2 separate regions of the Homo sapiens genome follow, and region 2 is linked to region 1. The links come from fine-mapping of genetic effects on gene expression. A gene starts in region 1. The other region holds a variant in brackets. All regions are shown on one strand. Distances are between the middles of the regions.

What was found.
Region 2: its variant is fine-mapped to the expression of BEX3 in whole blood (TOPMed, PIP 0.97).

The regions. Positions count from the first base shown.
Region 1 is chrX:103,367,916-103,383,972 of GRCh38, forward strand. It overlaps BEX3 (brain expressed X-linked 3), which reads left to right and starts at 8,623. Exons shown (of 3, transcript NM_206917.3): 1 at 8,623-8,698; 2 at 9,113-9,191; 3 at 9,595-10,249. The coding sequence starts at 9,607. The coding sequence ends at 9,912.
Region 2 is chrX:103,453,655-103,469,711 of GRCh38, forward strand. It overlaps LL0XNC01-250H12.3 (a long non-coding RNA gene), which reads left to right. Exons shown (of 6, transcript NR_188440.1): 4 at 7,561-7,700. Among named protein-coding and RNA genes, the nearest start is that of LL0XNC01-250H12.3, 57 kb to the left of the region's middle. RefSeq lists enhancers at 6,523-7,022, 10,980-11,129, 11,330-11,399. The variant G/T (reference allele first, on the strand shown) is at 6,692.

The DNA of each region.
Region 1 (16,057 bases):
CATCTTTCTTATGGAGTTTTTATGGATTTTCTTGAATAGATGTTTCTCCATTGATTTGACAGTATCCTGTGCCACATTTTATATGGCCCTTAGGAGCATTTCCAGAGGCTTTAAATGGTTGTTTTCTTTTGTTTTATAATTTTTACCAGTTTCACTGGAGAACATGTCTGCAGAGCTCTTCCTGCTGTCATACCAGAAATCAATCTCCTAGACATCATTTTGTTTTTGAAGACTTCACCGGCAACTGCATTAGGTCCTCTTACTCTGTGCTCCAAGTGCCCCTTCAGCATTTACAGCACTAAATTTATGGTTTCCTCCCATTAATTCATGAACTCCATGAATATGAATGTTATATTTACTTTGTTCTCTTTTATATCTCCAGGGCCTTGCCTAGCACATGATAGATAATAAATATTTATTGAATTAAATTTTTATTTTTATATTTTTATCAAATGGAAAGAGCTATGTCTTGGGCATCAGAACTCCTAAATATGGCCCTGAGATTCAGAAGTGGATATGGGCAAGCTGTGCCTAGCACAGAAAAGTGTTCAAACAATATTAAATAAGAAATGGTGAATGAAGAAAAGAATGAATGAGATTTAGATTGGGGACTTACTAATAAATAAAACTGAGTAGTGGTTAAGAACATAAACTTAGGAACTAGACTATATGAGTTTGAATTCTTGCTCTGTCACTTCCTGTCTGTTGTTTAACTTCACTGTCCTGCAATTCTTTTATTTGTAAAACAGAGAATACTACTAGCACCTACCTCATAGGATCTTTGAAATGATAAATGAAATAATGAATATACATATACAACAATGCCTTGCATATATCAGCATTTATATGTGTTATTTTATTTTCATCACTATGTATGTGTAAGAAAACTGGGATAATTCTGTATGTGTTATTTTATAACTCAAATTTTCAAAATACTTAATGCTTTTTTTTCCTTCTCCTTGCCAAAAGGAAACCTTTTCCTCGGAGACGATTTAGAAGATAGAAGTAATGATGGCCAATATCAGAAATGCATCTTTAATCTCAAAGATGAAAACAACCAAATGGAAGAGGATGAGAGAGGGGCAGGGGCACCAAGTCACCAGGCAAGGTTTCTAAGTGTAAAATGTAAGCACAAGATACGTTTATGCTACTACTGCCTGGGTCTCTGAGAGTCATGACAGGAAATATAGCCCCTAACTCAGCAGCTGGGGCAGGAGTGTAGTGAGGGAGGAGGAAGAGAGGTAGGAAAAAAAAGGTGTGTGTGAGAGACAGAGATAAAGAGAAAAAAATGAATATTTATCTTTGGCACTTTAATTAAAGATAGATTAAAATCATCTGTATACCAATACCTAAAATATCAGTTTTAGTAGTATTCTAAAATAATGTGTTGCTTATCCTCATGTCCACCTAATTTACTGTAGAATACTTGAAAAATGTGGAAAGTCATAAATTGGAAGATTTATGATTTGTACGTATCACCCATCACCAAAAGAGCCAAAACTTTGGGTGTTGAGATAGCAGAGACTGAGAACACTAAAGGACAGGCTTATCTGGGTCTGTCAACTAGAGGGTTCACATGTAGCATATCCAACATGGCCATCTCAGGGCTTCAAAAACAAATGTTTCCTGTAAATAGGGGTGAAGCTGTATGGTCTTTTATGATTTGGCCTTGTAACTCACATAGTATCAGTTCTACTCTCTTCTACCCTATTGATTGAAACTGTCATAAGCCCTCTTCTAAGATATAAGAGGAGGGACAGAAGACTAAGATTGACAGGTGGCAATCATAGATAAAATATTCAAATATTTCCTTAGATGTTTATGCACAATATGTATAATCCTAGAAGGTAAATAAATAAATAAAATAGGCCAAGTTCTATGGACTGAATGTTTGTGTCCCCCCAAACTTCATATGTTGAAGCTTAATACCCAGTGTGATGGTATTTGGAGGTGGAGTCTGTGGAATTAGATCATGAGAGTGGAGCCCTCATGAATGGGATTAGTGCTCCTATAAGAAGAGACATGAGAGAGTTTGCTTCCCCTCTTTCTGCTTTCCACTATGTGATGTTACAGAGAAAATCACCATCTGCAAACCAGAAAGTGGGTCCTCATCAGACATCGGATCTACTGACATCTTGATCTTGCACCAGAACTGTGAGAAGTAAATGTTTGTTGTTTAAACCACTCAGCTGCTATTTTGTTATAGCAGCCCAAACTGACTAAGACACTAAGAAAACAAGTGAAAAAGAAAAAGATTTCTTTCCTGGGAGTTAGTAGATCTAACAAAGCTATCTCTACATCTAGTTCTACTACTACCCTCTTGGAAACCTGAGCAAGCCCCTTAATTTTTCTGGGTCTCAGTTTCTCAATTTGAATAATAGGACCCTTGTACTAAAATATTTCTAAGGTTGTTTTGGTTTTCATAGTACACAATCTGTGAAGGCCTAGTACTTGAGATCATAAAACCTACCCTATAAATCCAAAATTAGGCAAAGGCATAGAAAACACAGCTATAAAATCCACTGTTCTATAAGCCTACTAATCCATTTTTCTGGCCTCACAGTTTATTTTATTATCCTATTTCAATGGGCTTGAAGAACATACAATGACCTGGGACATAGTCTGTTGGGTATCCAAAGCAGACAATGGCTTGTGACAAAAGTCTGTCTAGGCATGTTGACAGACTTCAGTCTTTCTTCCTGAGATATGAGTGTAGTTAATGAAAGCTCAGGGAAGGGACTAGAGATAATTGTTTTCTTCTTTAATGAGTCTGGACTTTAGATAAATAAGGGAACTTCAGAAAACAACTTCATCCTGTGCTTTGTGAGAGACAGGATTGAGAGTGAAGAAGTGTGTGGGAAAGGTCAGACGGACCTTGAGGTTCCTCTTCAGTTCAGCATGTCAAAGCACCATATCTTGGGGTATCAGTTTCTAAGCCCCAACATTATCCAATATAATGGAAGGTCTTTGACAACAGGGCCCTTGTCTACGCTGTTTCCTCCTGCATCCTTAGTACCTAAAACAGCAATTTGCACATGATAAATGCTCAACTATTATTTGTTAAAATAATAAATTTTTTTATTGGCCATGTTTGTTTCTTTTGTAAACTACTTATTCATATCCATTGCTCATTTTCCCATTGGTATGTTCATTTTTTTCTTATTAATTTGTAAGAGCTCTTTAAATATAATGGATGTTAACTTTCTTTTTCTTTCACATATTGTTGGTTTCCTAGGATGGCTGTAACAAAGTATCACAAACTGGGTGGCTTAAAACAACAAAAATGTGTCCTTTCATGGCTCTGGAAGCTAGAATTTCAAAATCAAGGAGTCAGCAGAGCCATGTTTCCTCAGAGACTCTGGGTAGATTCTTTTCTTGCCTCTTCCTAGCTTTTAGTCATGGTTGTCAACCCTTGGCATTCTTTGGCTTGAAGCTGCATCACTGTAATCTCTGCCTCTGTCCTTGGATTGGTTTTCCTCTTCTTATAAGGACACCAGTCATATTGTATTAGGGCCCAGCTTAATGACATCACCTTAATTTGAATATATTTTCAAAGGCTCTGTTTCCAAACAAGGTCACAATCAGAGGTTATAAGGCTTAGGACTTCAATATATATCTTGGGGGGATACAATTCAACCCATAGCACATATGGTATAAATATATTTCTCCTGTTTCTTCTCTGTCTTTTAAATTTGTGTGAAAAATCAGGTTCCCTGGCCAGGCGCGGTGGCTCACGCCTGTAATCCCAGCACTCTGGGAGGCCAAGGCGGGTGGATCACAAGATCAGGAGATCGAGACCATCCTGGCTAACACGGTGAAACCCCGTCTCTACTAAAAAATATAAAAAATTAGCCGGGCATGGTGGCAGGCGCCTGTAGTCCTAGCTACTCGGGAGGCTGAGGCAGGAGAATGGTGTGAACCCAGGAGGCGGAGGTGGCAGTGAGCTGAGATTGTGCCACTGCACTCCAGCCTGGGCGACAGAGCGAGACTCCGTCTCAAAAAAAAAAAAAAAATCAGGTTCCCCTTGTTGCACTGTATACTAGCAATGGAACTTACATGGGAGTAGTAACAGTGAAATAAGATAAAGTGACTTCATGAACGTTTATGCATGAGTTTTGTTACTCCTCAAAGTTCATCCCTAAGTCCTGGGAAAAGTAAGAAAGGTGCTCACCTCAGCCTAAAGCTAGAAGGGCCAAAGGAGTTCTCTTGGCCTACACATAGTCCAGCTAATGTCATCAGTTTAGGAGACTGCATAGGGCAGAGCTCCTTTTCCACCAGAGTCCTAAACAACAGGAAAGAGTGGCCACGGGTCTCCGGTGTCTCAAGATATTATCTGCAATCCATGAAATAAAGAAAAGAATACCCCTCAGTTCCCCAATAGATAATGAGGTGCTGAATATTTGCTGCTTTCACGTTCAGACATCTTAGTCTCATAGCCCTTTTATTTTTTCAGACTAGATCTCTTGAATTAAATATATTATCTCCCAAATCATTGAAACTCTTACAGTGACACCCTTAAAATTTCATCAGATTCATTCCACATTTTGGAAATCTTGGCATCAAAGTTATAATGGCCATAGCTTAGAGGAAAGCTGGAGTAGGCATAATTTCCTATATTCTTAACACCTAGTTTCAGTCTGTAATCGGTGCTTAAATTTAGAGAGAAAGAGAGAATCACAATAAAAAAGTATCAGTAAAGCATCAGAGAGGTACATAGAGAACCTATTCTAGGCAGGAACAGAGATACTCATACCCACAGGGCCCACTAGGGCTCAGACTACCTTCTCCCAAGCCTAGCATTTACACAGGAGAGATAATGAGAGGAAAACAGGACAATAACCACAGTCCAACCAGGTGCATTTCAGACAAGTACATGTGAGCCATGTCATGGCAATACACATAAAGATTTCAGCAAAAACGAGCTTCCACTGATGGGATACTAATACAATAGAGGGATCTTCACTAGTTGAGGTCAAATCATGAAACAGTTTTATTTTTCCAATAGCTGTATCAGCAGTGTTCTTTCTATCACTCCCTCCCCCACTTCGCATGGGGCAATGGGCTTCTTTAACTACATTTCTGTCCAGTTCTCCAACTTTTCAGTCACTACTGCTTATTAAAATAGTTTCAGTCAGACTAAAGATTTGGTTCTATTCATTTTCAAATGCCAATCTCACTTTTCATTCTGAGTCCTCCTGGTGCCTCCAGGGCAGATTAGAATTGAGGCTCCTGGGCTTGAAACATGTGTAAAACGTGTGTGTGGGGATAAGAACCATCTAATCAGTTCACCTTCTCTCTGCCTTTTGGGACACATGAATCCCAAATGCAGAATATAGTGTCCTTCTAACTTGGCCTTGAAAAAATTTGTTTTTGTTCTCAACAGTGTGCTGTCTATTTCCAACTCCTCAGAAAACTTCAGGGTCAAGAAAACATCTCAATCAACTCCTATTCACAACATTTTAGTAAAGATAACAGCATTTCCCGGATAATTTTCACCTATCTTTAAAACATTACTTTATTACAACTAATCAATATAGCATAATATCCAATCTGGATGTTACAAACAAATGTCTGTTTTCATCCAAGGAAATTTGATGGTTTTGAACACAGGATTTATCCAAGATGGGTGAAAAGGAAAACAGCAAAGCATTTAGCCACCAAAAGAAATAAAAATCCACTTGCTAAACTTCATATCCAATAGTCACATCACAGTGGCTTCTCAGCTTTCAGGAGATTTTTTTCTAGGTAATTCTTAATTTTCATAAAAGCTTTTCCGTATTGCTCTAAATACAGTCCCCAGAATGAAAAACAACCTATTCGCCTCAGTACTGGATACATTCATTCAACAAGTATTCAGTAATCACCTACTTGGTGCAAGGAACACTATTAGTCACTGGGTACACAAAATAGAACACAGCAAGCATGTTTTGGGCCCTCATGGATTTTAAGAACAAGTGGGTCTAGCTAAGGAAAGAATCATACTCTGCTACTCTTTAAATCATGTTAGAAACCATCGAATAACAATAAAAATAATGTCAACAAAAATTGATGATTTACTAGGCTATGTAGTAAATTATTGTTATGTGTAATTCTAACAATCCTTGTTTCACAGAGGAAGCACACAGACCTTGATAAGTAATTGATCCAAAGTTGAACATCAAGTAAACAGCTGACTGAATTTGAAGCCAGACTTGTCTGATACTACTGTTCATGCTTTGAAACTGCATCATTCCAGCTGATATCATTAATATAGCAATCTGTATAAAAAGTTCTTAACTGTGAGACAGAATCCAGGAATCACTAACATTTCTTTAAAAGACAAATATTGAGTGTGATTTTATAATTTGATGTTTTGGAGCTATGTACTAATATATCCATATACCTCTAGAAGAATATATATGTAATTTTATATGGAATACATATCTCCAAAACGTCTAACTACATACACACTGGGCATATACTCTTCCTTTATTCACTGTGTCATCTGGTTTAGCAGGGTAGGAAATTCTACAGGAGTTTGGGGCCAAAACTAGAGTTAGTAAGCATTTGTCTGGCTTGTCTTGCCTCAGTGCTGCATTTAATGCTTTTGGTTCCTTATCATAAACAACAGATATCAAATATTTTTTATAACAATGCCACTTTTCTAAAGACATCTCTATTTTCTAGCTGTGATAATTTTTTTAAAAATGATTTCAAGTTGGAGAAAGGAACATTTGCACTCAGGATAAGGTTCAGTCTCAAGTTAAGTTGTTTCACACACCCCCTGCTTATTTCTAATATATTTTGAAACATTCGCACCAAAGGGTAGATGGTTTTGAAACTACTTTCTGCATAATATGTACTTAACTTCTGAGCTCATACTAAGAAGATATTTGTAGGGATGGTTTGAAAGGTTTGGAAAGGAAAGCAGGGAATAAAAGACTCCCTTTCTCTGATGACTGTGATATCAAAAACATCAAAGTTACATAAAATGGTGAAGATCTGACGACCAGACTGCTCCCTGAAGATTCACTTTACAGATCATTTCGAAAACACCAACTGTGTTCAGAAAGAGTCCCGCCTTTCAGGCGCCTGTAGTCCCAGCTACTCCGGAGGCTGAAGCAGGAGAATGGCATGAACCCTGGAGGCGGAGCTTGCAGTGAGCCGAGATCGCGCCACTGACTCCAGCCTGGGCGACAGAGCGAGACTCCGTCTCGGGGGAAAAAAAAAAAAGAAAAAGAAAGAGTCCCGCCTTTTTATATATTTTTTTCTTTTCTTTTTTTTTTTTTTGGAGACGGAGTCTCGCTCTGCCGCCTAGACTGAAGTGCAGTGGTGCGACGCGGCTCACTGCAACCTCTGCCTCCCGGGTTCAACGATTCTCCTGCCTCAGCCTCCCGAGTAGCTGGGACTACAGGCACGTGCCACCACGCCTGGCTAATTTTTTTGTATTTTTAGTAGAGACGGAGTTTCACCGTATTAGCCAGGATGGTCTCGATCTCCTGACCTCGTGATCCGCCCGCCTCGGCCTCCCAAAGTGCTGGGATTACAGGCGTGAGCCACCATGCCCGGCCAAAAATAAAATTTTAAACGAGCTAGTATGTATCAAAAGTAATGGCTTGATGTTGTGTGGAGCCCAGAAAAAATATTTTGTGTGGTACAGGTCAACATAAACAATGAGAGATTTCATTGTGCAGGATAAAGCATTTCCTTTTTTTTTTTTTTTTTTTTTTTTTTTTTTGACAGGGTCTTGCTCTGTCGCCCAGGCTGGAGTGCAGTGGTGCGATCCCGGCTCACTGCAACCTCCGCCTCCCAGGTTCAAGCGATTCTCCTGCCTCAGCCCCCCGAGTAGCTGGGATTACAGGCGCACGCCACCACGCCCAGCTAATTTTTGTATTTTTAGTAGAGATGGGGTCTCACCATGTTGGCCAGGCTGGTCTCACACTACTGGCCTCAAGTGATCCACCCGCCTCGGCCTCCCAAAGTGCTGGGATTACAGGTACGCCACCGCGCCCAACCAGCATTTCTTTCAAAATTAAAAACTTATAATTTATAATTTTCTGAAGCATGCAGATTTTTTAAGGAAATAAAAAGAAATATATACAGTCCACTCCACTTCCTTGCCCCGCTTTCTGACAAATGCCCTCCTGCCTCCCCACCTTAGCCCTCACTCTAAATTTTCTAGAAGGGTAGGAATTCAGGGGCTACGTGGGCATTGATGGCTGTGCACACGCAAGGGGTAGAAGTGGGAGTGCAGCGCAAAGCATGTTGCCAGGTAGAAAAGGAGAGAAAGCAGAAAAGGCCAAAGCCAAGGCCTGAAGTGAGAGGGGGCAGTGGTGGAGGATGATGCAGACCCTCCCTGGTAACCAGAGGAGGGCAAACTCCAACCGCAGAGCAGTGATGCCACTTGTGGGCCCTCAGATTGGAGAGGACCGAGAAGAGTGACAGGGCTGTGCGCTCTGGGGCACCTCATGCAGACGGGAGTAGGGAGGCTGTTTTTTGCGCGTGCATATGGCGGTGGCGGGTGGGGGGAAGGGGGAGATCCTGCTGCACTGGCCGCCCAAGTTGGGGGGCGAGCTCGGTGGTGACGCGCGGCCCTCACGTGACCCAGAGCTGCAGAGCGACGCAGCCTTCGGTGCAGTCGTCACTCGCGTCTGGCTACCAGCTCCCCGCTGCCCTGAGCTCGGCGGGCTGGCATTCGGCCCGGGGAAAAGCGGAGCAGGTAAGGGCTCCGGGGCCCGTGAGCCCCGGCCATGCCAGCAGCGGCTGACCGACCTCGGCGACAGGCGCAGAACAGCGCAGGGGGTCCCCGCCAGCTTTCTCCACACCCCAACATGCTTGGGAACACAGAGGCCCCCAGGGATGGGGAAGCAGGGGCGGCTGGGTTTCCAGGGGCGGCAGAGCCACCAAGAGCGATGGAAACCCACCCCCGAGTCCCTGCAGGAAAACAGCGAACACCGCGGGGGGCTGGGCGTTCGAGGGTGGGGTGGGGGTGGGGGGCGGGAGACGCGGGGCGCTGGCAGCGAGGGGAGCCCGGGCTCGGAGCACGGAAAGGGCCGGGCGGCGGCGGGTCTTCGCTAGCGTTCCGCTGCAGCAGCCCCCACCCCCCACAACCCCCACCCCGGCTCGACTGCAGGTCTGCGAGGCTAAGTGTCTCCGCGGCGCACCTCGCGGCGAGAATCCGGAGGAGAAGGAGACTGCAAGGATAGGCCCAGGTCGGTGCGAGGGACGGTGGTGGGGCGGGGGTCGGAACGTAAGGAAAGCCCAGTCTGAGACCCCAACCCCCTCCACCCCATCCCCCACTCCTATACCGGTCCTCCATTTTGGTGCCTGCAAAGCTCTGGGAAAGAATCCCGGGAAACGAAAAATGGTGGGTTTGGGGGAAGGGAGGTAAGGGGAGAAAGCTGGAGGGAGGGGCTTTAATTGGAGGCCCCGTAGAGGACGCGCGGAACTTCTAAGGTGGGAAAAAACGAAATTAAAAAATCCTTTGATATCAGGGCTCTGAATCCTGCTGGTCAGAGCACCAAGCATTCAGTCTCTCTCCTTGCCTTTGTCTTACTTGTGTTCAAAGAAAAACAACCAGAAAAAAAAAATCTCATCATGGCAAATATTCACCAGGAAAACGAAGAGATGGAGCAGCCTATGCAGAATGGAGAGGAAGACCGCCCTTTGGGAGGAGGTGAAGGCCACCAGCCTGCAGGAAATCGACGGGGACAGGCTCGCCGACTTGCCCCTAATTTTCGATGGGCCATACCCAATAGGCAGATCAATGATGGGATGGGTGGAGATGGAGATGATATGGAAATATTCATGGAGGAGATGAGAGAAATCAGAAGAAAACTTAGGGAGCTGCAGTTGAGGAATTGTCTGCGTATCCTTATGGGGGAGCTCTCTAATCACCATGACCATCATGATGAATTTTGCCTTATGCCTTGACTCCTGCCATTTATCATGAGATTAATACTGTGATTCCCGCTGTTTTCTTTTTCCTTGCATTTTCCTAATATGCCTTTACTGATCCGTTTGCTGTGAACCCTATGTTATTTCCATGTGTCAAGTGGGTCTTGTGTTGCCAGCTTCTATTTGAAGATTGCCTTTGCACTCAGTGTAAGTTTCTGTCAGCAGTAGTTTCACCCATTTGCATGGAAAAATTTAAAGCTAATAAAGCAATTTAAAAAGCAATCTATACATTTATTGTCTCATTAAAAATGTATACTTACATATAACAGATGAACTAAAAAAAAATCTGAGATTAAATACACTAGAGTGTTAATTGGTGAACATTTCTGTGTGTTAACTAATCCCAGCACTTTGGGAGGCTAAGGTAGGCAGATCACGAGGTCAGGAGATCGAGACCATCCTGGCTAACACGGTGAAACCCTGTCTCTACTGAAAAAAAAATACAAAAAATTAGCCGGTCGTGATGGCACACGCCTGTAATCCCAGCTACTCGGGAGGCTGAGGCAGGAGAATGGCTTGAACCCGGAAGGCGGAGGTTGCAGTGAGCCGAGATCACGCCACTGCACTCCAGCCTGGACGACAGAGCCAGACAGTCTCAAAAAAAAAAAAGTAATATGTGACATTTTTTTCCTTTTATTATCTGGAGTTTGAGAAGCAATGAAAATTATTTTTCAATGAGATTATGAATGTAGTGCAGATACGTAACAATACTGGCTCAACAAATTTGAAGAGTAAACTCTAACTATCCTTCAGTCTTAACTGGAATAATAAACCTTCCCTTTATTACAGATGCATTCCTTTAAAGAGCCCGTTTTCTGCTCTGTGAAATGGGGAACAATGCTTGTCTTACAGGGCTGCTGAGTGGAACTGATGAAATGTGGAACTGTGTTGGGCTGGCTTCTGTCCCCAACTCCCCAACATTTAACAGGACCGGGACCCCCATCAGGTACTTAGGACTGGAGGAATTATCACTCATGTTTACAAGTCCAGACAGTGAAAATAGGTGGGTTCCCCCATATCATTCTTGTTATTTGCAATCCTCCTGCTCCCCTGATTACTGCCTTCTTGATTGGCCACACTTTCCCTTCTGCTGGATCCTATTTCTGTTGCTGTTGATGAGGTGCTAGGGTCTTCAAGGTAACAAGCCCCACTGATTTCTCTGGAGTCTCTGGTGAGCCAAATCCCCCTTTGACCTCTATAGAATTGTGGAGAATGTCTTTATAACTTGAGAGTTATATTTATCCTGGTGAGTACAACTCTTGTGGTTCTTGGGATTACATTGGTTCTTAGAAAAATAGCCCTTTCTGGTTTTCTTTCATAACTCCTTCAAATAACTCAGACAAGAGTGCACTGCGGCCTAACTGAGAAAATGCATCTGAGTGTGCCCTGAATTGCATTACTGCAAACCTCCACAATACAAACAGGCTGAAGGCTTTATTTGTGCCTGTGTTTCTATCCTTGATACGGATTTTCTCAAAGGAGACTCTTGGCAGGCCTGCCCACCCAGTTTAACAGACTTACCTAGACATGTAAATTACATTGGGAGAACAAATTTTCTTTAAAGCGGAAACACACTCCCTTCTTGTCCATACCTGAACCATGAAACTACTCTGTAAGTTCTTAAAAACTATATTAAGTATTTGGCATTGTTATTTCTTTGTGAGTGTGTGCCCTTTTCTCCAGACAGTTTCTGGTATAGTGCCCGACATAGTAGATATTAAATTATTAATTATTTTGATTGATTAATTAACTAAGAGTTAGAAATCCAGCTCAAAACTGTCCCTAACTCACTATCCTTAACTAAGGGGCCAAAGGCAAGTAACTAGTTATGTGGAAAGCATTATATTATTTCCAAAGGAACATAGCAAGGAAAGTTTCTAACTCAAATTCTGTAAACTTTTTTTTAAACCTTGTATATGTTAGTGTTTAGGGAAACATAGACGCCTTACGTGCATCATAATTACCTAGGGAAAGTGTTAAAAATGTTGACAGTTGGGTGCTCGTCCCACCCCCAACCAGCCACTGTGACCACCTGAATCACCAGAATCAGGAATTACTATTTTGACAGTTTCCCAAGTGATTCTCATGCATCTGAGTTTTGACAACATAGGCATAGAGAAACACTGACAGTAATTACACCATTTTACAAATTTCGTGATCCAAATTACCTTACTTACTTGATTCCACAATGCATATACGTTTCCAAAGTACAGCATTCCAAAATTAGACATTAGGCCATCAATGTATGTTTATACTTAAACCAGTACTGTTTTATCTTCTTTTCAAATATCCTATTAAACTAATGCTTTATCATGAATTTATTATTAATAATAAATGTAATAATTATGAAATTATTAAATAAATTATGCATTATCATTTCTGTGCCAACCTGTGCCCTTTCACAACAATGATTTTGTTTTAGTCTCCCTGGAGCTCAGTTTCTAGCACAGTGCCTAATATAGTAGATGTTTCATAACATAATAATTCATTTACTAATTAATTATTAAATTATTTCAGGATTGTAGTTTATCTAAAACAATATATAACAACATTTTTGAGCCTGTGGAGTTTTTTTTAATGCTTTCGTATTTTGAAATTTCTATAAAGAACATTTTAAAATGTTAGTACTTCTTATAATTATTTATATAATGTCATCATACATATTTGGATCATGAATATAGGGAGAATATAAACAAAACCGTAATCCAGTCATCCAAAGATACCATTTGTAAGTTTTTAAATCTTCATCTTATATTTTATCATGACAAAGCTAGGCTTAGAGCCTCTTATGAGGAACACTGCCTCTTTCAAAGCCCCTGCCAAAGAAATATGTTTAGCTTGCCATGTTTGTTACTATTTTTCTAATCTCTCCTCTCCACTTATCAAAGCTGATTGACTCATTTGATCAGCTTTCAGTTAGCTCCTGATTTTCAAAACTCAAGCCATCACATTTCAGAAGTCCACTCACAGTGATCTAATGTCCAATTTTGAAATGTATTTTTTTCTATCTTGAAAAACTACAACAATGTTTGTCTTATAAAGTTCTCATCATGTCTGCATTAAAAAAAATCAATTCCTTTTCCTTTAAATCCTTAGTGATTACTTTCTTTTTTTATTTTATTTTATTTATTTTATTTTATTATTATTATACTTTAAGTTTTAGGGTACATGTGCACAATGTGCAGGTTAGTTACATATGTATACATGTGCCATGCTGGTGCGCTGCACCCACTAACTCGTCATCTAGCATTAGGTATATCTCCCAATGCTATCCCTCCCCTCTCCCCCCACCCCACAACAGTCCCCAGAGTGTGATGTTCCCCTTCCTGTGTCCATGTGTTCTCATTGTTCAGTTCCCACCTATGAGTGAGAATATGCGGTGTTTGGTTTTTTGTTCTTGCGATAGTTTACTGAGAATGATGATTTCCAATTTCATCCATGTCCCTACAAAGGACATGAACTTATCATTTTTGATGGCTGCATGGTATTCCATGGTGTATATGTGCCACATTTTCTTAATCCAGTCTATCATTGTTGGACATTTGGGTTGGTTCCAAGTCTTTGCTATTGTGAATAGTGCCGCAATAAACATACGTGTGCATGTGTCTTTATAGCTGCATGATTTATAGTCCTTTGGGTATATACCCAGTAATGGGATGGCTGGGTCAAATGGTATTTCTAGTTCTAGATCCCTGAGTGAACAGGCAACCTACAAAATGGGAGAAAATTTTCACAACCTACTCATCTGACAAAGGGCTAATATCCAGAATCTACAATGAACTCAAACAAATTTACAAGAAAAAAACAAACAACCCCATCAAAAAGTGGGCGAAGGACATGAACAGGCACTTCTCAAAAGAAGACATTTATGCAGCCAAACAACACATGAAAAAATGCTCACCATCACTGGCCATCAGAGAAATGCAAATCAAAACCACAATGAGATACCATCTCACACCAGTTAGAATGGCGATCATTAAAAAGTCAGGAAACAACAGGTGCTGGAGAGGATGTGGAGAAATAGGAACACTTTTACACTGTTGGTGGGACTGAAACTAGTTCAATTTTGAAATGTATTTTGGCAAATTTAGAAATATAAAGTAAATATATTTATTTACTAGAACAGAACTATTTATTTACGAAACTTAAAAATTGTCTTAGAAGTAGAAAAAGTTTTGAGTTTTATAAATGAAATGGACAAAATTCCACGTCTACTCTGTCTCCTTTCCTGACATCACATGTATTATGTAGTAAATATACTGATTTTGTTTGGAAAAGTCCAGTTTTTAAATTTCAGAAAGATAGCATGTTATGTAGTCAATATTTCATGTGTAACCAGCTGGAATGCTTTCTAAGTGATATAACTATACATAACCCAATAAATAAGGCATCCCTATAAACTTGAAAATCTAATTTTTAAAAAATTTTTGCCAGACATTTGAAAAGTCACAATTAGCATGTTTAGAAATTTACTCTGTTGGAAAATATTTCCAATTTAATAAAAATAAACTTTGCTGAGTTTCATATGAAGAGAGAAATCTTCAGATGTATGCCCATTTAAAAAAATCATTTTTGGCCAGGTGTGGTGGCTCACGCCTGTAATCCCAGCACTTTGGGAGGCTGAGGCAGGCGGATCACGAGGTCAGGAGATCGAGACCATCCTGGCTAACACGGTGAAACCCCGTCTCTACTAAAAATACAAAAAATTAGCCGGGTGTGGTGGCGGGCGCCTGTAGTCCCAGCTATTCGGGAGGCTCAGGCAGGAGAATGGCATGAACCTGGGAGGCGGAGCTTGCAGTGAGCCGAGATGGTGCCACTGCACTCCAGCCTGGGCAACAGAGCAAGACTCCGTCTCAAAAAAAAAAAAATTTGTTTTCACACAAATGAACTTTGTGTTTCTGATTGTAAAGTAATGCATTCTAAAGTGGTTTTTGTTGTTGCTTTGAGCAGAAGACAAACTGTATTAAGAAAGTTTTAAAATATTTTCTTCAACATCTTGTTTCTTTTCCTAAGATCACATGAGTATCAATTAATTTTAAGTTGTTGTCTATTTTTTCCCTAAATTAATACATATTACTTAGTTTGTAATTAAAATTTGATTTTTAAAAGAGGAAGCAAACTAATGTGTCAGTCATTAAAAGGGTGGAAAATTTGTTGAAAAAGAATAATGAATTTCAAACTAGTTCTGGATCCTTTCGCTGATTATGTAAACTTAGTAGTTATTGCCATGGTAATGCATTAGTGTTTACCATACATTGGTAAAATGGAGATGATAATTTCCAGGGCTGCTGTGGGACCCAAAGGAGATAAAGAGCATGTGAGTGAATGGTGTTGGATGACTTCATGTTTTCACCTGCACATTCAGAATCCAAGTACCTCAGATCCCCTTCAGCTGCTGGGAGTAGTAGCCAAACTATGTCACAGTCCCACTCCATCCCTCAGCTATGATGACCCACCCACTTCTCCCAGTTCTGCACTCTCCACTGGCCTTGATCACTACAGATTTCTCTAGACACCTCAATGTGCTAATGTCCCAGTTTATATCCTACAGAGGTGTGCATAAAGACCTACTTGAATTACAGTTGTACTAGCTTTGTTGGGTACTGTCTTAGTGATGCTTGGACCATGGTATGTTTTATATTTTTAGCAAAAGAGGCCTTTTGCTCAGCTTATATTTGTGGTTATAGGATATTAGGGGCCGAGTCTTGTTTTTTTTTATCCACTCTGACAATCTCTGTCATGTAATTAGAGGGCTAAGACAATTTCCACTTCAAGTGACTATCAATATGGTTGTCACACAACCACAATTAATGCTCTGTTAATTTTTCAGTCTTTTCTCTCTGTGTTTCATTTCAAATGGTTTCTTTTGCTATGTCTTCAGGTATACTATTCGTCTACAATGTGTAATCTGCCATTAACTTCATTTAGTATATTTTTTCATTTCAGACATTGTAGTTTTTATCTCTAGATGTTTAATTTGAGCCTTTTAAATATTTTTTATATTCCATGTCTCTACTTAACTTATTCACTCTTTCCTCTAGCTTCTTGACCATATGCAATGAAGTTCTAATTATCTGCTTTTATGTCCTTATCTAATTCTACCATTGTTGTCACTTCTGGG
Region 2 (16,057 bases), 86 kb after region 1:
AAACCCACCTTAAAAAATTCCTGGGATCTTGGATGGTGAGAGAGCACTGGGGAGAGGCAATGCATCTATATGAGTATTTGTGAATGTATCAATTTGTGTGTTGCTGAAGCTGCCAGGAATGTGTATTATGAGATGTTGAGACAAATTACTATGTATTACGTCAGTGTTATTCATTTCCTAGCACATGTTGGTAACAAGATATAGGGGGTTGTTTGTTTTTTCCCAGTGTTCCTTGGCTAGCCTGGTTACCATGGTGACTCCATGACTCTTATGGGATTTAGTGTAGAGTGAGTGTCCATTTATGATTTTTGCCTGAGTCACTTATTTCGATGATAGTTGTGAAGTGTTGTTTTTAAAATTCTGATATTCCTTTCAAAACTATGAGTTGGCATTTAGAAAAGGGCAGAGTTTTCTCTTCTTATTTATCTGTGTATGTATGTATGTATATCAGTGTGACTCAGAGATTCTCATTTTTCTGAAAGGATTACCCTGTGCTATTATTATTATTATAAATTTCGATGCTCAAATTGTCCCAGAATTGGCCAGTGGAAGGACCTTGAAGTTGGCTTCAGTGTCCAATTAACACCTCCCTAAAATTCCTTGAGCATGTACTTTGCTCTCTGAACCTGACTATATCCCCATCTGTAGAAAGGAAGTAATGATGTCTACCTTAGAGCATGGCTTTGAGCATTTGAAGAGAAAAAGTCTGAAGATAACAACCCATATCGTGTTGCATCTAGTAGGCCTTCAACAAATGTAAGTTCCCCACTCCAACTTTGCCTCCTTCATTCTGTCAGTGCGATGCCTCTGACATTAAAATTCACATCATGAATACCAAAGAGAATACTTGGAAATGTGACAGGAAGCAGGCGTAAGTCTACATTTCTTTTTTTTTTTTTTTTTTTTATACTTTAAGTTTTAGGGTACATGTGCACAATGTGCAGGTTTGTTACATATGTATACATGTGCCATGTTGGTGTGCTGCACCCATTAACTCGTCATTTAGCATTAGGTATATCTCCTAAAGCTATCCCTCCCACCTCCCCCCACCCCACAACAGTCTCCGGTGTGTGATGTTCCCCTTCCTGTGTCCATGTGTTATCATTGTTCAATTCCCACCTATGAGTGAGAACATGTGGTGTTTGGTTTTTTGTCCTTGTGATAGTTTGCTGAGAATGATGGTTTCCAGCTTCATCCATGTCCCTACAAAGGACATGAACTCATCATTTTTTATGGCTGCATAGTATTCCATGGTGTATATGTGCCACATTTTCTTAATCCAGTCTATCATTGTTGGACATTTGGCTTGGTTCCAAGTCTTCGCTATTGTGAATAGTGCCGCAATAAACATACGTGTGCATGTGTCTTTATAGCAGCATGATTTATAATCCTTTGGGTATATACCCAGTAATGGGATGGCTGGGTCAAATGGTATTTCTAGTTCTAGATCCCTGAGGAATCGCCACACCGTCTTCCACAATGGTTGAACTAGTTTACAGTCCCACCAACAGTGTAAAAGTGTTCCTATTTCTCCACATCCTCTCCAGCACCTGTTGTTTCCTGACTTTTTAATGATCGCCATTCTAACTGGTATGAGATGGTATCTCATTGCGGTTTTGATTTGCATTTCTCTGATGGCCAGTGATGATGAGCATTTTTTCATGTGTTTTTTGGCTGCATAAATGTCTTCTTTTGAGAAGTGTCTATTCATATCCTTCGTCTACTTTTTGATGGGGTTGTTTGTTTTTTTCGTGTAAATTCATTTGAGTTCATTGTAGATTCTGGATATTAGCCCTTTGTCAGATGAATAGCTTGCAAAAATTTTCTCCCATTCTGTAGGTTGCCTGTTCACTGTGATGGTGGTTTCTTTTGCTGTGCAGAAGCTCTTTAGTTTAATTAGATCCCATTTGTCAATTTTGGCTTTTGTTGCCATTGCTTTTGGTGTTTTAGACATGAAGTCCTTGCCCATGCCTATGTCCTGAATGGTATTGCTTAGGTTTTCTTCTAGGGTTTTTATGGTTTTAGGTCTAACATGTAAGTCTTTAATCCATCTTGAATTAATTTTTGTATAAGGTGTAAGGAAGGGATCCAGTTTCAGCTTTCTACATATGGCTAGCCAGTTTTCCCAGCACCATTTATTAAACAGGGAATCCTTTCCCCGTTGCTTGTTTTTGTCGGGTTTGTCAAAGATCAGATAGTTGTAGATATGTGACATTATTTCTGAGGGCTCTGTTCTGTTCCATTGGTCTATATCTCTGTTTTGGTACCAGTACCATGCTGTTTTGGTTACTGTAGCCTTGTAGTATAGTTTGAAGTCAGGTAGCGTGATGCCTCCAGCTTTGTTCTTTTGGCTTAGGATTGACTTGGCAATGCAGGCTCTTTTTTGGTTCCATATGAACTTTAAAGTAGTTTTTTCCAATTCTGTGAAGAAAGTCATTGGTAGCTTGATAGGGATGGCACTGAATGTATAAATTACCTTGGGCAGTATGGCCATTTTCATGATATTGATTCTTCCTACTCATGAGCATGGAATGTTCTTCTATTTGTTTATATCCTCTTTTATTTCATTGAGCAGTGGTTTGTCGTACTCCTTGAAGAGGTCCTTCACATCCTTTGTAAGTTGGATTCCTAGGTATTTTATTCTCTTTGAAGCAATTGTGAATGGGAGTTCACTCATGATTTGGCTCTCTGTTTGTCTGTTATTGGTGTATAAGAATGCTTCTGATTTTTGCACATTGATTTTGTATCCTGAGACTTTGCTGAAGTTGCTTATCAGCTTAAGGAGATTTTGGGCTGAGACAATGGGGTTTTCTAGATATACAATCATGTCATCTGCAAACAGGGACAATTTGACTTCCTCTTTTCCTAATCGAATACCCTTTATTTCTTTCTCCTGCCTGATTGCCCTGGCCAGAACTTCCAACACTATGTTGAATAGGAGTGGTGAGAGAAGGCATCCCTGTCTTGTGCCAGTTTTCAAAGGGAATGCTTCCAGTTTTTGGCCATTCAGTATGATATTGGCTGTGGGTTTGTCATAAATAGCTCTTATTATCTTGAGATACATCCCATCAATACCTAATTTATTGAGAGTTTTTAGCATGAAGCATTGTTGAATTTTGTCAAAGGCCTTTTCTGCATCTGTTGAGATAATCATGTGGTTTTTGTCTTTGGTTCTGTTTATATGGTGGATTACATTTTTTGATTTCCGTATGTTGAACCAGCCTTGCATCCCAGGGATGAAGCCCACTTGATCATGGTGGATAAGCATTTTGATGTGCTGCTGGATTCGGTTTGCCAGTATTTTATTGAGGATTTTTGCATCAATGTTCATCAGGGATACTGGTCTAAAATTCTCTTTTTTTGTTGTGTCTCTGCCCGGCTTTGGTATCAGGATGACGCTGGCCTCATAAAATGAGTTAGGGAGGATTCTCTCTTTTTCTATTGATTGGAATAGTTTCGGAAGGAATGGTACCAGCTCCTCCTTTTACCTCTGGTAGAATTCGGCTGTGAATCCATCTGGTCCTGGACATTTTTTAGTTGGTAAGCTATTAATTATTGCCTCAATTTCAGAGCCTGTTATTGGTCTATTCAGAGATTCAACTTCTTCCTGGTTTAGTCTTGGGAGAGTGTATGTGTCGAAGAATTTATCCATTTCTTCCAGATTTTCTAGTTTATTTGCATAGAGGTGTTTATAGTATTCTCTGATGGTAGTTTGTATTTCTGTGGGATCAGTGGTGATATCCCCTTTATCATTTTTTATTGCATCTATTTGATTCTTCTCTCTTTTCTTGTTTATTAGTCTTGCTAGCGGTCTATCAATTTTGTTGATCTTTTCAAAAAACCAGCTCCTGCATTCATTGATTTTTTGAAGGGTTTTTTGTGTCTCTATCCCCTTCAGTTCTGCTCTGATTTTAGTTATTTCTTGCCTTCTGCTAGCTTTTGAATGTATTTGCTCTTGCTTCTCTAGTTCTTTTAATTGTGATGTTAGGGTGTCAATTTTAGATCTTTTCTGCTTTCTCTTGTGGGCATTTAGTGCTATAAATTTCCCTCTACACACTGCTTTGAATGTGTCCCAGAGATTCTGGTATGTTGTGTCTTTGTTCTCGTTGGTTTCAAAGAACATCTTTATTTCTGCCTTCATTTCGTTATGTACCCAGTAGTCATTCAGGAGCAGGTTGTTCAGTTTCCATGTAGTTGAGTGGTTTTGAGTGAGTTTCTTAATCCTGAGTTCTAGTTTGATCACACTGTTGTCTGAGAGACAGTCTGTTATAATTTCTGTTCTTTTCCATTTGCTGAGGAGTGCTTTACTTCCAACTATGTGGTCAATTTTGGAATAGGTGTGGTGTGGTGCTGAGAAGAATGTATATTCTGTTGATTTGGGGTGGAGAGTTCTGTAGATGTCTATTAGGTCCGCCTGGTGCAGAGCTGAGTTCAATTCCTGGATATCCTTGTTAACTTTCTGTCTCGTTGATCTGTCTAATGTTGACAGTGAGGTGTTAAAGTCTCCCATTATTATTGTGTGGGAGTCTAAGTCTCTTTGTAGGTCACTAAGGACTTGCTTTATGAATCTGGGTGCTCCTGTATTGGGTGCATATATATTTAGGATAGTTAGTTCTTCTCGTTGAATTGATCCCTTTACCATTATGTAATGGCCTTCTTTGTCTCTTTTGATCTTTGTTGGTTTAAAGTATGTTTTATCAGAGACTAGGATTGCAACCCCTGCTTTTTTTTGTTTTCGTTTGCTTGGTACATCTTCCTCCATCCGTTTATTTTGAGCCTATGTGTGTCTCTGCACGTGAGATGGGTTTCCTGAGTACAGCACACTGTGGGTCTTGACTCTTTATCCAATTTGCCAGTCTGTGCCTTTTAATTGGAGCATTTAGCCCATTTACATTTAAGGTTAGTATTGTTATGTGTGAATTTGATCCTGTCATTATGATGTTAGGTGGTTATTTTGCTCATTAGTTGATGCAGTTTCTTCCTAGCCTCAGTGGTCTTTACAATTTGGTATGTTTTTGCAGTGGCTGGTACCAGTTGTTCCTTTCCATGTTTAGTGCTTCCTTCAGGAGCTCTTTTAGGGCAGGCCTGGTGGTGACAAAATCTCTCAGCATTTGCTTGTCTGTAAAGTATTTTATTTCTCCTTCACTTATGAAGCTTAGTTTGGCTGGATATGAAATTCTGGCTTGAAAATTCTTTTCTTTGAGAATGTTGAATATTGGGCCCCACTCTCTTCTGGCTTGTAGAGTTTCTCCCGAGAGAGCAGCTGTTAGTCCGATGGGCTTTCCTTTGTGGGTAACCCGACCTTTCTCTCTGGTTGCCCTTAACATTTTTTCCTTCATTTCAACTTTGATGAATCTGACAATTATGTGTCTTGGAATTGCTCTTCTCGAGGAGTATCTTTGTGGTGTTCTCTGTATTTCCTGAATTTGAATGTTGGCCTGCCTTGCTAGATTGGGGAAGTTCTCCTGGATAATATCCTGCAGAGTGTTTTCCAACTTGGTTCCATTCTCCCCGTCACTTTCAGGTACATCAATTAGATGTAGATTTGGTATTTTCACATAGTCCCATATTTCTTGGAGGCTTTGTTCGTTTCTTTTTATTCTTTTTTCTCTAAACTTCTCTTCATGCTTCATTTCATTCATTTCGTCTTCCATCGCTGATACCCTTTCTTCCAGTTGATCGCATCCGTTACTGAGGCTTGTGCATTTGTCACGTAGTTCTCGTGCCTGGTTTTCAGCTCCATCAGGTCCTTTAAGGACTTCTCTGCATTGGTTATTCTAGTTAGCCATTCATCTAATCTTTTTTCAAGGTTTTTAACTTCTTTGCCATGGGTTCAAACTTCCTCCTTTAGCTTGGAGTAGTTTGATCTTCTGAAGACTTCCTCTCTCAACTCGTCAAAGTCATTCTCCATCCAGCTTTGTTCTGTTGCTGGTGAGGAGCTGTGTTCCTTTGGAGGAGGAGAGGCACTCTGATTTTTAGAGTTTCCGGTTTTTCTGCTCTGTATTTTCCCCATTTTTGTGGTTTTATCTACCTTTGGTCTTTGATGATGGTGATGTACAGATGGGTTTTTGGTGTGGATGTCCTTTCTGTTTGTTAGTTTTCCTTCTAACAGTCAGGACCCTCAGCTGCAGGTGTGTTGGAGTTTACTGGAGGTCCACTCCAGACCCTGTTTGCCTGGGTATCAGCAGCGGAGGCTGCAGAACAGTGGATATTGGTGAACAGCAAATGTTGCTGTCTGATCGTTCCTCTGGAAGTTTTGTCTCAGAGGAGTACCCGGCCGTGTGAGGTGTCAGTCTGCCCCTACTGGGGGCTGCCTCCCAGTTAGGCTACTCGGGAGTCAGGGACCCACTTGAGGAGGCAGTCTGTCCATTCTCAGATCTCAAGCTGCGTGCTGGGAGAACCACTACTCTCTTCAAAGCTGTCAGACAGGGACATTTAAGTCTGCAGAGGTTATTGCTGTCTTTTGTTTGTCTGCCCTGCCCCCAGAGGTGGAGCCTACAGAAGCAGGCAGGCCTGCTTGAGCTGTGGTGGGCTCCACCCAGTTCGAGCTTCCTGGCTGCTTTGTTTACCTACTCAAGCCTGAGCAATGGCGGGCGCCCCTCCCCCAGCCTCACTGCCACCTTGCAGTTTGATCTCAGACTGCTGTGCTAGCAATGAGGGAGGCTCCGTGGGCATAGGACCCTTCGAGCTA[G/T]GTGCGGGATATAATCTCCTGGTGTGCCGTTTGTTAAGCCCATTGGAAGAGCGCAGTATTAGGGTGGGAGTGACCCAATTTTCCAGGTGCCTTCTGTCACCCCTTTCTTTGACTAGGAAAGGGAATTCCCTGACCCCTTGAGCTTCCTGGGTGAGGCAATGCTTTGCTCTGCTTCAGCTCACGCACGGTGCACTGCACCCACTGTCTGGCACTCCCTAGTGAGATGAACCTGGTACCTCAGTTGGAAATGCAGAAATCACCCATCTGCTGCGTCGCTCACGCTGGGAGCTGTAGACTGGAACTGTTCCTATTCGGCCATCTTGGCTAAGACTTAAGTCTACATTTCTATTATCATTTCTTATTATGTGCAATCTTTTTTTTTTTTTTGAGATGGAGTCTTGCTTTGGTGCCCAGGCTGGAGTGCAATGATGCAATCTCGGCTCACTGCAACCTCTGCCTCCTGGGTTCAAGTGATTCTCCTGCCTCAGCCTTCCAAGTAGCTGGGACTATTATAGGCACATGCCACCATGCCTGGCTAATTTTTTTGTATTTTTAGTAGAGACAGGGTTTCACCATGTTAGCCAGGACGGTCTCAGTCTCCTGACCTTGTGATCTGCCCACCTTGGCCTCCCAAAGGGCTGGGATTACAGGCGTGAGCCACTGTGCCCAGCCTGTCATGTGCAATCTTGAGTATCACTGCTGTGTGGTGGTGGGGACAGTGAGATGAAGCTGAGGGAGAGGAAAAACCTCATTGCTTAGCTTCCAGTTAACTGAATGGGGTATAGGCAAAACATCATCACACGTACAACCTCCTTACCTGTCCTCTTTCTTTCCTCACTATTCCATGTGCTTTCTTATCTCCCTTCTAGTGTAACATCAGAGAAGGGGTGTACTCTGTGCCCTAGAACTAGGAGCTAACAGAGAAAAACCAAATGTGATGTGGAGTCTGCTAGACAGGCTACTGGAGCAAGAGTGAAGCGATGAAAGTCTCATCATTGGGACATATTAGGTGAGTCACTTCCCTTACACCAGCCTCATCTATTCAACAGGATAATAATTCCCAATCTTCCTGACCACTCAAGAATACTCTGGAGATTAACAATGAACTCATATGGGAAAGCAAACTGTGATCTTAGGTGGGAGGGAAGGACCAGTCACTTTTGAGTAATTACCTTAACAGAGACAATCCAGATGTCCTAGAGTTCTCCATGGTGGGCATTAAATTAATGGCACAGTAATGTGAGGTGTTTTCATCAGAATTTTGCCAAGTATGGTTCGTGGACTACTTCATCAAAATCATCATGGATTGCCTGTTAAAATAGTAGATATTTGGGTCTACCATAAGTCAGCTGAATGAAAAACAGGGAGATGTGGTGGCAGGTATCTATATTTTGAGAAATTTTTCCAATTGGTTGTGGTACTCATCCATGTTTGAAAAGCACTGCTGTGGATTTGCAACAAGGTCTATGAAAAATTTGAATCCTTTCATGTCTAATTTCATCATTGGTTGCTCCTACTACTTTGCTTTTAATATCTGTGTCATTTCTGTTTTGTGAAATAGGTACCAGTTCCTTTAATTCAGTAATTTTCATTCAGTGATTTATGTGTGGAGCATTGATCTAAGCACCGGGGAAACAGCACAGAGAACAAGACAAACATGGTCCCCGGACATATCATTTCTAGTTTGAGAAAACTGGTAATAAGTAGGTAAACAGATCAATGAGCAGGGTAATTTCATATGGGGATTTGTGTTTTAACACATATAGAGTATTAAATGACCAAGATAAAGATAATTACAGATGGGGTTGTAAGTGAAGCTCCTTTTCAGGAAGTGACATTTGAGCTGAGTCCTGGATAACAAAAAGAAGCTAGGCACAGACTGACTTTTTGCCAGTGTGTATACAATGTGCATGGGCACCGTGTGTTCCAAGAGCAGGGAAAAGCTCAAGTGCCTAGAGCCTGGCAGACAATGCACAGACTGGTGAGATGAGGTTGAAGGGGCAGATAGGAGCAATATTGTTTAAGCCATTGTAAGGAGTTTGGATTGTATTGTGAGTGTGGAGGGTTAGAGAATGGGAACAATATCATCTGACTCATGTTTTCAGAAAGTGACTCTGGTCACTGTGCAAAGAATGGACTAGAGAGGGAGAAGATAGTGTGTGAGAATAACCATTAGAAAATATTGCGGAAGTCTAGGGAGGAGCAAGCTGATGGTATCAATGCTGCAGCCATGTGTAGAGGGAGAAATGGACCTTGACAGTATGTGTTTGGAGGTAGGGAGGGTAAGACCTGTAGTAGCTGTGTGTGTGAAGTATGTGGGGATAAGGCAGAATAAAGTATGACCCCTCAGCTTTTTGTACAGCCATGTGGAAAAACGATAGTGCTATTTTGTGAGATCAGTCATTCCAAGTGCTTTTGAGATGTTCTTAAGTTAATTAAAATTTAGGTCATCCAAGGTTGGTTGTAGTGAAAATTAGAGATTTTAAGAATGCAGGTTGTGTATTTCAAAATAGTTAAGAGAATAATTTAGATGTTTCTAGCATAAAGAAAACAAATAGTTAAGGTGATGGATATCTCAGTTATACTGATATGATCTTTACAAATATATGAGTGTGTTAAATTTTCACATGTACCCCCCAAAATATGTAACCCTATATTATATATCAATTGAAAAAATAAATAAAGGTAATAGTAATGTTCAAAAAAAGAGATATCCTTGCTGATTCCCACTTTATAGATGAGAAACTGAGTGGCAGAGAGAATAAGGACTTTGCCTGAGACTACACAGTTAGGGAGTGGGACAGCTTGGATTTGTGTCCAGGATGTCATGCTTCAGAGCCTGAAAACTGTCACAGATTTCTTAGGTGAAAGAAACAGTCTGCACAAGCGTGCATGTTTTAGGAATGCATTTAAAGTAATACTTAGTATGTTAATAGATGTATACAAACACTGGCCCTAGTAACAAAAAGGTGAATGGTGACCTTGGTAAGATCACATTCATTACAATCCTGGCAATGGAAGTCATAGTGCAGTGGGATAGGGGGTTAGTGGCGAATAAAGAATGTTAACAAGGAATGCAGAAAACTATTTTTAGAGCTTTAACTTTGAAGGGAAAAGAGGAGAGAGAGAGAGAGAGGAAGAAGAAGAGGAAGAGGAAGAAGGAGGAGGGAGAGGGAGGGGTATCTTAAGTGGAAAAGATAGGTTGTCAAAGAAGATGAGGACTGTGATTGCACTTTTGGAGAGGACTATGATGTGTGTTGGGGGTCGAACATGTTCGTGTGCACGTCACCTACAGGGATGCGTCTGGAGAGCGTGCATTATCCTAAGGGACAACAGACCCCTTGGGGCCAGGGGGTAGGAGTAGGGTCAGTGAGAGATGCAGGATGATTTAAATGTATTGAAGTGCTTTTGCATAGTGTTTGAAATTTTGTATTCGGGGGGAAAAAGTATTTTAATAAAAATTGAAAACAAAATACTTATCATCAGATTGACAAAAGTAATGTGCACATATATTCCATATATATATATATATTTTTTTTGCTTTGGAAAAGCATTCATTGTAGCCAATTTTATGGGGAAACAAAGCAGATTTTAAAAAATGAATGGAGTGTGTGTGTGTGTGTGTGTGTGTGTGTGTGTGTGTGTGTGTGTGTTTCTAGCTAGTCTAGCTCCACCACCTCAAGTACAGCTCACAGTTGCAGTATTATCTTCAGTTCAGACCAGGACTGGCTTCTGATCTCAGATTTAGATATCCCACAAAAAGTGCTTCTGTTAATATTCCAGAAAAAATGATGGATACAGAAGGATAGCTGGATGTAAGTGAAAAGTTCCAGAAAACCATGTCTGATCCCATTAATCAAGCTCCCAACTTTCATCCCTCCCTGCCCGCTGCTGAGTCCCCTGGTCTACACTCAGAGTTGCAATCCTGACTCTGGCCACCAAGAGGCATTACAGCTATCTCCACGTTCCTTGCTCTTTCTTAATGAAAAGGGGTAAATTTCGCAGAGTAAGTAATGTTATGAAACTTTTCTTTACTGTGATACCAATAGTTCGGAATACCCATTTGTATATTAAAGCAGGCCAATTTGCTGTTGATTCCAAATCTACAGCGCATTCAGTAATTTATTTTTTCCTTCATTAGCGTAGGTTGAGGTGTCCACGCTGTAGGGGGGGGTCCCTCCTGGAGAGCAGGGTGTTCACCACCCATCACTCCAACCCTGTACAGGCTTCTCAGACTCTCTCCCACTCCCTCCCACTGACCCCCCTCTCCAAGACATTGTGGACACATCTGCCCAGACCCCACTCCAGCGCCTCATCCTTTCAGTCACTTCCTGCTGCCCTGGGCTCCCCCAATCCTGCCTCCCAGCAACAGCCAAGGCACATCAGACCTACCTGGTGTTTCATCCTATGGATGTCCCACAGTATGTTTTTACACTCTTTTTTACACCTGTCAGGGTTGTTTTTTTTTTCCAGACAGAATCATTCTGCAGTTCCTTTCATAGACTGGGTTTTAGGGGAGGATACCGTATTTTTCTGCTCCTTGCTTACACTTTGTAGAGAAGTTTGATAATAGTGGTACAGTGATGCCCCCTCATGACAGAAGCCTGAACTGCAGCAGCTTGAACATCGCTGAGCAGGAAGGTGGGAGGGAGGTGCTGTGGCCCATGCACACCCTACAGAGTTTTCTGGAAGTGTGAGTAGAAAAATGGGCATTCCCACTGTACAGGGATACTGACGGCCACCAGACAGAAAGTGTAGCCTCTTTATGTGCTATGTGAAAGCACAAAATGATCATTTCTGTGTTTATGCTTTCAAACCTCTGGATAAATAGCTATAGACCTATATAAGCAAAAATGCATCTTGGCCACTAAGTGATCTTTGTGACCCACATTTGCCCTCATTGTGATCATCTTTGCATACACATGCGTTTCCATAATAATGTTTTAAATTTCCTTCCAAAAATAATTGTAGTCTCTTTTTTTTATCAACCAGGTGGTTCATCATGTGGGTGCCCCAAAAATTCATTTAATTAGTATCCCAGTCATAAAAATGTAGTTGCTTTAACATTTTTTCCTGTTACAAACAATAGTATACTTAATATCCTCCTCATATATATGCAAATATATTTGTAAGCATTTCTGTCAAAAAAAAAAAAGTTCCTGGAAGTGGTCTTTCAAAACCCTGGGAACTGTAAAATTTTATATTAACATAGTGAAATCCAAATACTATTTCTAACTTATATTCCTTACATAACAGTATGTAAGGACCTTGTGTCTTCACACATTAGAAATAATGTGAATCATTGCTAATCTTACAGGCAACAAATCACCTCTCATCGTTATCTTCATTAAAACTTGTTTTGCTGAATTCTAGAATTCCATCCTATGGATATGACATCAGTTTTCTCAAACCTGTGTTAGTCAGAGTGTTCTGATATTCCCTGTTATCTACACTGTGTGGAAGACATCTTTTCAGAGTCTGTGCATGGCTGAAGGGCACAGTTCCTGTAGCTGTTTACACTGGTGAGCCAAATGGGTCCTCTTAGAGCCTTACTAACTGTCTTGGAGGTTATTACAGTACTAATAACAGAACCTGGTTGCTGTACATGTGTGTGTATTTGTCACTGCTTGTGTGTGTGCACAGCATTTCCCTCTGCTTCCTTCTGCCCCTTCATAATTTGGTGTACCGGTTGGTCTTTCTTCCTAAATTCAGGCCCAGAAATAAAGGAAGGGAATTTTCAGAATGACAGTACTTATAACCAGATGCTTATCAGCATCCTTCACAATGTCCTGAAGATAAACTTCTAAAAGGTAAATTGTTGGTGCAAAGGGTGTGCACCTATGTAGCCCTTTGATAAGTATTGCAATACTGACACCCAGAGAGGTAATGCCATTTAGATTCCTCAGGTGGAGTCACAGGAGAAAATCCCAAGAGGAGTAAAAAATAATAATGCTGATGTCATGTTAGAGTGGAGGCCCTGGATGCTGTTGTGGACCCACTCTCCAGTTTCTTCCACAGTTAGAAGATGTGGAAGTGATCAGGTGCAACTCGAATTTTTCATACAAGCAAAGCCCGAGTCAGCGTGAGGGGTGGTGGTGGTGGGGCAGGGAGAGACTGCCATTGCTTGGAGTTACTTAGGACACAGTCAGCAGGGCTGGGATACAGCTACGGTTTTATATATATTCATGGGTATAGAAAACATGGGCATCAAGGCCTTCATATGAAAAAGTTTGGTCATTACTGAGGTACAACAGAAGGCTTTCTTGCAATATAATTACAGACAATGAAATTCGCAGTTTTAAGGATACAACTTGATGATTTTCAGTAAACAAAAGTTGTGCAACCATCACCGTAGTTGAGTTTTGGAGGTTTCCATCACTATAAAATGTCCCATCATACTTGAACGCAGTTAATCCCTGCTTTCACCCCCAGCTCCAGGAATCACAGGTATGCTTTGTGTTTCTGTGGATTTACCTATTCTGGACATCTCATAGAAGTGGAATCATGCAATATTCATCTTTTGTGTCTGGCTTCTTTCACTTCACATAATGTTTTTAAGGTTTATCTATTTTGTAGCATGTATCAGTACTTTATTCCTTTTTATTGATATACCACATTTTTTTATCCACTCATCAATTGGTGAACACTTGAGTTGTTTCCAGTTTTCGGCCATTATGAATTATGATGCTACATATATTTTTTGTGCAAGTTTTTATGTAGACATAGGTTTCCGTTTCTCTTGAGTATGTACCTGGGAGTAAAGTTGCTGGGTTATATGGCAGTTCTCTGCTTGACAATATGAGGAACTCTCAGAATATTTTATTGACCTTGACAGTCTTGAGGAGTACAGCCTTAATCTGTTGTCTTTTTCTCATGATTAGACCAGCATTATGGAATTTCAGAAAGAATACCACAGAGTTGAAGTGCCCTTCTTATCACATAATATTTGGGTTTACATGATGACATGACCTCACTGGTGATGTTAACCTTCATCACATAGTTAAAGTCGTGTTTGCCAAGTTTTCCAATGTACAGTAACTTTTTCAATTCACGTACTATGTTCCTGAGAAGTGAGTCACTAAGTGTGACCTTCATTCAGGATTAAGCTTCACCTCTTGGAGGGTTAGTAGCTACAAATACTATTTGCAATCATTCCATAAAGACTGTTTGTCTTCTCACATGCTTTTCTTTATTAATTCACCAAACATTTACTTATATCAGTATGGATTTATGCATACTTATTTTAAAGTTGAAATATTTTACTTAATGGATATATCCCCGAAGAATTCCAGCATCATTATTTCAGTGGTACAGTAAAAGAATTTTGACTTAACTATCAGGAAACTGCAAAAGAGCTCCCTATCACCGCAATTATATTTCATCACCACTATATTTTCTAATTGTGATATATTAGTGCTTTTAGATAATATATTTAATCATGGCAAAGTTTGGAACAGCATTATAATTTCACTTTATTTCATTGCCTACTTGGTACCCCTTGAGACAGAAATAAAAAACAGATAAGGCAAGATTATTGAAGTAGCCATAAAAATTACTGCTAACATAAAGTAAACCTATTTATGAACTCCCTGTCGATGAAGCAAAAGTATAAGCTGTGTCAGGTAAAATGTGTGCTTCATTTGAAAGCATGTCGTCTGCAGCTTAGCCTTCTGGTTATCTGACTCTGAAAGCTGTTTTACAACTCTACCTTTTAGGTAACTGATAGCATTGCATGCTATCTTTGTCTATAGACACAAGGAAATGAATTCTGTCTTGGGGGAGGGAAACCTTTTCCCCCTGGGAAAGTACCTGTTTATCTCCATTTGAACATTTATTTCAACACTCTTGATCTATAAATGTGACAAAGAGGTGGCTGTAGACTTGGGAGAGTTCATTTCAGTGGAAGGGTGGGGGAACCAAGTCCCAGTAGATGAGAAATGAAGACTGAGGTGTAGGGAAGTGCAGAGGGAAGTGAGTTGAGTATTGAGAATTCTTCATAGAATATTGATTGTAAATGGGAGAATATATGTAAAGAGGATATCAACTAAAGATGTAGAAATGGGTCCATGGCACTGAACTATGTTTTACAATCATCAGTGATGAGTCTCTATGATTAATCTGTTAGTGGGAAGGAGCCATCTCTTCTTAGATCTGCCATCTGAATTTACCACACCCTCCTTTCCACACTTCACTTTCTTGTTTCTATTCTGGGGAAGCCTAAAACTTAACCAAAGGGATGGTGTAGAGTTTGGCCTTAATGCCTAGTAACTGTTAACTGAGGAATGACTGAATGGGTGGATGCACAATGTGTCAAACATGCTGATAATTCACAAATTTTTATCTCCCAGCGCAGAGCTTTTATGCAGATGACTGAACCCGTGGAGTTAGGTGGCTGAGAGGATGCAGCTTCCCAGGTCTCTACAACTGATGGCAGCAAGATGGGAGCACCCAGCTACAGTGTTCAGAAGTAGATTTAGGCAGACTACCACACCTTACATGCTAGAGGGATCCACACTGACCTGAGTAGGTGAGGTCTCAGACAGGCTTGTTTTCTATCATGGGGACAGGATTACAGCCTACTCAGAAGTAAGTTGTGGTCCAGCTCTTGTGTCATTCAGAAAGACTCCAGAACGTGTAGATCCAGCTCCTCTCTAAACTTGAACTCAACCAATATCCCAGAGAGACATTCTTAATCTTCTAGGCAAATGCACTGTCATTAGGAGCCACCAGAGACCACACAAACACACACAAATACACACACACACACACACACATATACACCCTGGAGCCTTAATGCCAGCAGTAGCCCTAGGAGAACCTACAGGCTCATGTGCTTGTTGCTTATTGTCTGTTAGGCTGCATATGTAACTGGACCCTTTTGCATTTAAAAAAATAGCAATAATGATGATTAACAGAGTGTTTATTAGGGAATTATTTAAAAATTACCTTAGTATCCAGTTAAATATGATGAAAATGAGAGAATTTCCACCTGTCATGTTATCAAAGTATTTTAAAAAACCATCGAGGATTTCAGTGAGGTGTGCATATGGGTAGGTCTACTCTGTCTCATATTGGGGGAGGGGATATCACTTCGTACAACCTCTTTCCAGGTTGATTTGGCAATATCTTTTAAATAGTCTGTGCATCCCCACTCTGTATGTATTTGGAGCCTGTCCCTTCAAGTATTCATCCTCAGTGTGACAACTGCCCCTCTATTAGAGGATGCATATTCCTCATGATGTAGGTTGTCTGGGAACTCTACTTTCTAAAGCACTGACCCAGACACATTCCCTTGTCTTTGCAGAGCAGGATATTGATGTACAACAAGATTCTCTGATCAGAAAGAGAGGCAGAACTAGCAGCCTG